Homo sapiens: one gene and its partner. The protein of the gene in region 2 interacts with the protein of the main gene of each other region in a pairwise test. Each region holds a gene or a part of one and is shown on either strand. Other genes may lie near its edges.

Region 1 (4,678 bases), on a different chromosome or scaffold from region 2:
CTCTAGCGGGGGTCTCAGCCCTCGTCTGTCGCTGCGGGTCTCCTCGCATCTCGGCGTCTCTCTCCGCGTCTCTCTCCGTCCCGGCGCCTGTGTCCCGGGCTGTCCCCAGCTCCGAGCCTCAGTTCCCTGCGCGCCTCCATTTCCCTCCTTCCCCCGCCCGGTCTCCGTCACCCCTCTGTCTCCACATCCCGCTTGTCTCTCCTTCCTGGCTCCACGTCTCTTTCTCTGTCCCAGGTTTGCTGTCGTCTGATCTCTGTCTGAGTGTCTGTGTCTCCACTCGCCCCCGACCCGGCCCCCCGAGCCCCCTCCCGGGTCCCCCACTCCCATTCAGGCCCGGGTTGGTGGGGTGGGGGGGCGCTGCGGCGGGAGCTGTGTGTTCCCAGCGCAAAATAGACTCTCGTTGCCATGGCGACGCGCGCGGGGCCTCGGAGACGCGAGGCTTCGGGCTTGGGGGGTGAGGAGGGGGGACACCTGGATCCGGAAGGCGGGGGCCGGGGGCGCCGCCGCCCGGTCCCAGGGGCTCCTCCTAGATCCCTGGGGAGAGGGATGCTGGGCGCTCCGACGCTGGGGGCCAGGGGACCGGACCTTCTGGGAGGGGTCTGGGCTCCCAGGGTCGGCGGTGGGGGCTCCGATTGCCCAACGCGGGGCGGGCTGACTGACAGCTCTGACGCCGGTGTCTCTGAGGACTCAGGGGTGGCCTCTCAGGTCTCCAAGGTTGGGGAAGAGGCAAGGGCTGCAAATCTGGAACGGAGGAGCTCTCCCTGGGGGTCTGCAGATTCCAACTCCTAGATCTGCAGAATTCTGGGAGCCCCCATGTGGGTCCCGGAACTCCTGCGTCTGGGGGAGCCGGGACTACAATGCTTTCAGCCCTTCCTTCCATCCGTCCATCCATCCTTCCATCCATCCATCCACCCATCCACATGGCTGTGTCTTCCTTCCTCCCGTCTCCATGTCCCCTTGCCTCAGTTTCCCTTCCGCACCTGGGTGCGGTCTCGCTCACCTCGCTTTCCGGATGCGGGACCCTTGGGGAGCCGGGGGTGGCGGCGTGGGGGGCGGCCGGAGGCGGCGGCGGAGCGCGTGTCTGCCGGCAGCTGGGCTGGGCGTGCGCGCGCCGGCTGGGGGCGACCCCGGCCGCAGTTCTCCTCCGAGCAGATGCGCCGCGTCCGTGCAGATGTGTCAGCCGCCAGCCCTCGCCTTTGCCTCGCGCCGAGAAGAGGCACCTCCCCCCCCCCACCTGCTGGGGACCCCGCTTTCTCCCTCCTGCAGCCCCCAGTCGCCCCCGGGATCCCCCCCAACCCAAGAATGGTTTGGTCCACAGCCACATATATGTTTATTCTGCGAGTCCGTGTCCCACAGTCTGAGACTCTTCTTCCCCTCCCCTTCCCGCCCCGTGAAGTGGCCCGGGGCCGAGCCCCGCCTCCATCTTGGCTCAGCCAATTCCCACCCAGTTTCCAGGAGTCTCATTTGCATTTCCGGGAGCAGCTGTCCAATGGGAAGGCAGCACCCTGCCCCCCCCACAAGGGGGCGGCACTCCTGGTGGATCGCACCACTCTTGGGATCCAGGGATGGGGGGAACGGGCTTCCACTGAGGTCCGGGTGACAGGAGGGTGGTCTTCCCTCAAGGCAGGGTTGGAGTTCAGTGGAGGAGGGAGTTCTGGCCTTGGAAGAGGCCCAGCAGTCCGCTGTCTGGGGCGGGCTCCTTGATGAGTTTCTGGATCTGTAAGGGCAGGGGGCGATGGGTCAGGAAGCGTCTAGGGTCCCGATCTCCATGGATGACAAATCTGAGGGACACCTCTCCGTCTTCATCTCTCGGACCTTCTGGCTAGCAGCTGCCCAAGACAACACTCCCTCTTCTCAAGACTTTTCCTGGGGCCTCCCTTTCATTACACGTGACTGGTTGAGCTCCTCACTGCCTGCCATCTTGGTGTGCTTTGCGGGCTTGGACCACTAAGGGTGGACAGCTCTGTGCTGGGGCTTCCTGTCTACACCTTCCTCTTCTTAAGTAACCTCATTTCTCCCATCCCTCTTCTGGGCCCTCAGCTCACAAATCCAGCCTGGACTTTGCCCCTGAACTCGACTCATCTATCTAACTGCCTCTTAGATAGACATGAGCAACCAACCGCATTTCATCCATCAGCAAGTCCCAGCAAGTTTATCTCCAGAAAATAAAATAAATAAATAAATAAATAAACAACAACAACAACAAAAAAGCCTGCATCCCCCCTGCCTCATCACCGCTTGCCTGGGCGCCCAAATTAACCTCCTTACTGACAGGTCTCCCTCCTCCCCTCTATGCCACACTCCCTAATCCACTGGTCACACAGGGCCAGAAAGAACTTTGTAAACTGCCGATCTGATATGGCCAGCTCCCCTGCATCAAACCCTGATGGCTGCCCGTGGCTGAAATCTCAAACCTCTGGGCTCTGACTCCTGCGTGAAGACAGGCTGCTGGCTCCTCCCGCGTGGTGCTCACCCTGGCCTGCTACAGCTCCTCAAAGAAAGCTCAGTCCCCCTCCCCTGGGAACACTGTGAGTGCCTGATGCCCCCTTCCCCGGCAGCTCAGAATTCAGGGCCACCTCTGCCACTCTTGCTCATCCCTCTGCAACTCCTGCCCCAGCTGGGGGTCACAATGTGTCACTGAACATGGATTGCTGCAGACTCCAGGGCTCACCACAGTGGCTGGCACAGAGTGGGTGCTCGGTGAATGTCCCACAGAGCTGAACTAGAAGGAAGGTAAGGAGCAGACCTGGGAGGGCCTGGGAATGTCAAGGTCTGGGGCCTCTCCAGCATCCTGAGGGCCAATGGCTTGAAGCAGGGGGGCCCAGTACCTGGCTGACCCCGGTAGCAGGGTGGCCAGTGGAGTCTGAGAAACTGGAGGAGGGGCACCCGGGCCGGAAGGGGCAGAGGCGGAGGAGATGGAGAGTTGGAGATGGGTGTGGACGGGTCAAGGGGCTTCTATCTAGAGGGTCTCTGCTGACCTGTTCTTCCCCAGTGTCCGCCTGGTCACTCCCTCCTTCAGTTCATTCTAAAGTCACCTGCTCCAGGATGCCCCCCAGACCCTCCAATACAAACCCCCTCCTCTGTGCCCTGACCCTCTGGATTGCCTCCCCCATTTTATTGTTCTCTGTGGCCCTTATGGTCCATCTGTGGGCTCCTTTCATGGATTTATGGCAGTGACAGTGACCAGCAGCCTCCCCTCCAAGAACCTGGCTCCCCCTGGAGGCGGCAGCCTGCTGGTGCCGAGATGTATTCTCAGAGCCCAAAGACAAGACCTTTGACAGATGCAGGGGAGGTGGGGGCGGCCAGGCGGGCATTACCTCCTTGAACTGGGGGTGGACGGCATCGCCCACAAGCTGCAGAATGAGCCCTTCGCTGGTGGAGAGGAAGGCACCACTCTGTCTCATGCGGGCCAGAGCCACCAGCCGGTCCACCTGGCTGTGAGTGGGAGGGAGGGAGGGAAGGTTGGTGTGGACGCCGCAGTCTGGACACCCAGACACGCAGGCACCCTGGTGGGAATGCCGCCTGTGGCCCTTCCTGGGAGCCCCTGATGGCCCCCACGTGCACCCACCCAGGCAGGGGCCCTCTCACCTGCGTGAGGAGCAGGCGTCCACCACCACATGGACCTGCAGCCCCCGGTCTAGGAGGTCCAGGGTCGTGTTCTGTGGGTAGAGAGAGGTCAGGGCCAACCCCGGATAAGAACGGGGGTCCTGGGTAAGGAATTGGGGATGGTGAGTCAGAATTAGGGGCCCAGAATGGGGAGGAGGGAGGCTCGGATCAGAGGAAGGGGCCCCCAGGTCAGGAGGGGATCCAAGATAGGATGGGGCCCACAGGTGAGGAGAGAGGGCCCAGGTCAGGATGGGGGTCCTGCAGGGAAGTGGAGGTTTCTGGTCAGGGAAGGAGGTTCTATTTAGGATGGGGGTCCCAGGTTAGAACGAGGGACCCCTGGGGTCAGTCAGCATCTCACCAAGATGCAGGCCTGTGCCTCAATGCCACAGAGCAGCACAGAGCGCAGCTGGGGCCGACTGTCCAGCTCCTGCTGCAGGGCAGGCACCATGCTGAAGCAGGTCTTGGCCAGCGGCCGAAGGCCCTCAGTCCCCAGCTCGGGCACCGTGGGGCCCAGGCCTTGTGGGTACTGCTCCGTCAGCATGACTGGCACCTCAAGCAGCCGGGCCACCTGTGCCAGTGATGGGGAAGAAAGGTCAGGGTCTGAGGGAGGAGGGGCTGGGCCTGGACTCCTGGGTCTGAGGGAGGAGGGGCTGGGCCTGGACTCCTGGGTCTGAGGGAGGAGGGGCTGGGGGTCTGGACTCCTGGGTGTGAGGGAGGAGGGGCTATGCCTGGACTCCTGAGTCTGAGGGAGGAGGAGCTGGGCCTGGACTCCTGCGTCTGAGGGAAGAGGAAGTGGGCCTGGATCCCTGGGTCTGAAGGAAGAGGAGTTGGGCCTGGACGCCTGGGTCTGAGGGTGGAGGGCTGAGCCTGGATCCTGGGTCTGAGGGTGGAGGGCTGAGCCTGGATCCTGGATCTGAGGGTGGAGGGCTGAGCCTGGATCCTGGGTCTGAGGGTGGAGGGCTGAGCCTGGATCCTGGGTCTGAGGGTGGAGGGCTGAGCCTGGATCCTGGGTCTGAGGGTGGAGGGCTGAGCCTGGATCCTGGGTCTGAGGGTGGGGGGCTGAGGTCATACC
Region 2 (3,500 bases):
GGGCCCAGATTCAAGACAGGTGACTGTCACAGACGGCCACACAGAAGCTGAGTGAGCAGGGAGATAAGGAAGTGAGTGAGGAGAGAAGCCTCCCTCAGGAGGTGGGAGGGGCTGGGGTGAAGCCATCTCACCAGCGGCGTTCCCCCGGTGCCAGGCTGGGGGGTGGGTGCTGTGGAGTACATGTAGCTGAAGAGTCGCTCAATCTTCCTCAAGGGAACACCCCCACCTCGGTCACTCATCTGGGAGAGATGGGATGTGTCAGGGATTCTTTACAGCTCATTTTCCCCACCCCGCCCAATACCCCTGACCTTCTCATGGTCTTCCCCACCCCCAGGATCTGCCCACCATGTAGGAGAAAAGGAAAGCCCGTCTCCTGGCAGGAGGGAAGCCCCCACTACTGCTCCCTGGTCCCCAAGGTCAAAGGGTCACATACCTTGATGGACAGATCTTCCTCACCCAAGGCCACCATGACCTTGATGGGTGGGAGAATGAGGCTGGACTCATGGCTTTCCACAGTCGCCCTCATGGCATTCTGCGGAGGGGCAGAGGTAAGAGATGCATGGGAGAAGCCAGCCCTACTCACGCTCCCCGCAAAGCACCGGCTCCCAGCCTCCTCACCTTGAAGAGCTCAAAGAGCATGTGGTAGAGGTGGGAGGGGACGTAGACCATGTGAATCGGCTGTTTGGAGTTGGCTGCTACAGGGCAAGTCAAGACCAAGGGTCAGGAAACCGTCAGGAGGTCACTGCTCAACCACCTTACCCAAAGGAGGCACCCCCTCCCACAAAGTTCTGAGTACATGGCTGCCCAGCGAGAGACTAAATCCCCAGCCTCCCTTGAGCTGGGGTAGCTGGTGACTCATGGAAGTGATGCATTCAATTCTTGGGCCCTGCTTTCCACACCCTTGTTCCCTTCCTCCAGGCTAGAACTGAATCAGGGGTGGGGAGCCAGCCCTGACCTGTCCAGCAAGGGGCTGGCGAGAGGGAAACCTCCCTCTTAAGTAAGCCACTGGTATTGGGGTTCTAGGAAAGCAGCCAAGCTGATACACCATCTAACATGCCCCTCCTCCCTACCCCTGTTGAGTTACCCCATTTTATTTCCTTCCCATCACTTGTCATGATCTGAGATGGTCTTGTTTATTTACTTGTTAATTGGCTGAAGGCTCCATTCCGCAATCTCCCTAGCACCAAAAATGTAAGGTCCACGAGAATGGGGACCATTTCTGTCTTGCTTACTCTTTCATTCATTCATTCACTCAATTTCTTATTTGTTTGAGATGAAGTCTCGCTCTGTCACCCAGGCTGGAGTGCAGTGGTAGCATCTCAGCTCACGGCAGTCTCAGCCTCCCGGGTTCAAGTGATTCTCCTGTCTCAGCCTTCCAAGTAGCTGGGATTATAAGCATGTGCCATCATGCCCGGCTAATTTTTGTATTTTTAGTAGAGACAGGGTTTCACCATGTTGCCGAGGCCGGTCTCAAACTCCTGACCTCAAGTGATTGGCCTGCCTTAGCTTCCCAAAGTGCTGAGATTACAGGTGTGAGCCACTGTGCCCAGCCCAAATATTTATCAAATGAATTAATAATATAATAACTCTGCTTCTCCCCTGTCTAGAAAACAGTCCATCTCCTGACTCCCCGTCTCACCTTGCCCTGCCACGTCCCCAGCCCCAAGACAGACACATACACAGCCCCGCTCACTCACCATTGATCTCCTGGATCTCCAGGTCAGGTGAGGCCATGTAATACTTGTCACACAGGAGCTTAGCCATGTCGTAGGCATCTGAGAGAAGATGGGGTCATTCAGGGCATGGGTGGCCCACCCAGCAGGCAGTCCTCCTGACATTGATACTGGGGACCACCAGCATTAAATCCATGGCACCCCTTACTGAGGAACGAGTCACCCTCTGGCCAGGTAAGCTTGGAGGGGTCCCCGGGGCTTCTCTGCGGGCCAGGCACCGTGGGAATGGCTCACCTTTGACCACCTCAGAGACGTTGCAGTTGGGGTCGATGCTGCCGATGTGTTTGGGATGGGCTGGGTTGGTGCTGCCATCAAAGATGAGGGCTGCAGGCAGGAAGGGAGGATGCTGTTGGCTGGGCTGCAGTCTGTCCCAGCGCTCCCTCTTCCCCCGGGCTTTCCTCCTCTTTCTACTTTCACCTCCAATGCCTCTGTAGGCTCCAGTCCTAAAGCTGCCCCACTCCCCCGCTTCTGTCCTCCCTTCCCTGACCCCTGACCCCTCCAGCCCTGGCTTAGGCCGTTTTTAAACCTTTGCAAACCTGAAACAGACGTCTTTTCAGAGGTCTCTCCCCACATCACATCTCCACATTGCATTTATTCTTTTCTTTGACTATAACATTCTAAGAGAACTCTTACCACCTTGCTTTGGAAATTATTTGAGCATGAGGAACTTGTTTAATTTATGACTGGCTACAACTTCTCAAAAATCATAGTGAATCCTCCTGGAATAAGAAACTCTAAACAACAAATTGTTTTTGAACATAATGAGAGTTTTTATAAATACTAAATTAAACATTCTTTTAAAGATGTGACATAATTTTACATTTTGCAAACACTGAAAACAAAACGTTTTGAAATGGAAAATCAATGAGAAAGAAAAATTTTATTTTTCCATGTTGGAGCCATTAACTCCATAGTTACTGGAGTAACTATTCAAAGACTCCCTTTGTGGGGTTCTGAAGAGTGGTCTAGGTCCCCTCAGCAGCCCGGCCCTGGGCCCCAGCACCGCCCCCCCCACCGCCCGCTCCCCGCCGCTGTGGCCGGCACCCACTGTGCTGGTTGATGAGCATGCGGATGGAGATGCGGCTGAGGTAGAAGCGGTCCAGGAAGTACTGGATGTTCTGGTTGGAGACGGGGTCATCGCCGTAGGTGTCCTTGTACTCAAGCACGCCTTGTGCCATGGTGGGCACCACGTCGTTGTGCCGGTTCCGGATGGTGACCAGGGCGTCAGTGAACCTGTGGGGCAGGGCAGATGTTCACATGGGACACCCCCAGACTCTTCTCCGCTTCTGACTCCCCTCTCCACGGTGTCTTCACCCGCTCTACCCTTCCCAATCCGATGGACTCCCAGTGCCCTCCCTGCTCCTCCCAAAGCCCACTCTGATCTTTTAGCTGCCTGCCGGCAGGCTTCCCACTCGAAAGCCCAGAGTTCTCATCCTCCCCATGGCAGGGCCTGGGTCTTGCCCACCGGGCTCAGGGAACAGTGAGAATGGAGTCCATGTCTCTCCCATCAAACTTGGGGCTCCCTGAAGCAGAGTCTGTCTCCCCACTCAGACTGGATGTTTCTGAAGGCAGGGGTCTTTTCTTCCATCCTGCTGTACTTCTGCCCCAGGGGCTGCAACCCCAGATGCCCCTGGCCAACACCTGCCTTCCTGCCCCACCCAGGGCCCCCACTCACTGGCTCAGGGTGCGATGGTCCTCGGGATCCTTGTCCAGGAACTCCATGATGTCCAGGAGGCTCTGGACATACCTGTGTGGGGGCGGGAGGGG

The links. The genes of interacting proteins can lie anywhere in the genome.
Region 1: the proteins of PDK2 (region 2) and ISOC2 interact in a two-hybrid assay, tested with the Homo sapiens proteins (one large-scale study listed by IntAct).

What each region holds. Positions count from the first base shown.
Region 1 is NC_000019.10:55,451,672-55,456,349, forward strand, and holds the end of ISOC2 (isochorismatase domain-containing protein 2), read right to left. Parts: coding exon 4,678-4,678; intron 4,175-4,677; coding exon 3,965-4,174; intron 3,708-3,964; coding exon of another isoform or gene 3,660-3,707; coding exon 3,589-3,659; intron 3,436-3,588; coding exon 3,318-3,435; intron 1,718-3,317; coding exon 1,637-1,717; 3' UTR 1,314-1,636; downstream 1-1,313.
Region 2 is NC_000017.11:50,105,351-50,108,850, reverse strand, and holds part of PDK2 (pyruvate dehydrogenase kinase, isozyme 2 isoform 1 precursor), read right to left. Parts: intron 3,481-3,500; coding exon 3,409-3,480; intron 2,967-3,408; coding exon 2,782-2,966; coding exon of another isoform or gene 2,699-2,781; exon of another isoform or gene 2,480-2,698; intron 2,058-2,479; coding exon 1,968-2,057; intron 1,776-1,967; coding exon 1,698-1,775; intron 696-1,697; coding exon 619-695; intron 533-618; coding exon 434-532; intron 240-433; coding exon 132-239; intron 1-131. UniProt on the Homo sapiens protein: Kinase that plays a key role in the regulation of glucose and fatty acid metabolism and homeostasis via phosphorylation of the pyruvate dehydrogenase subunits PDHA1 and PDHA2.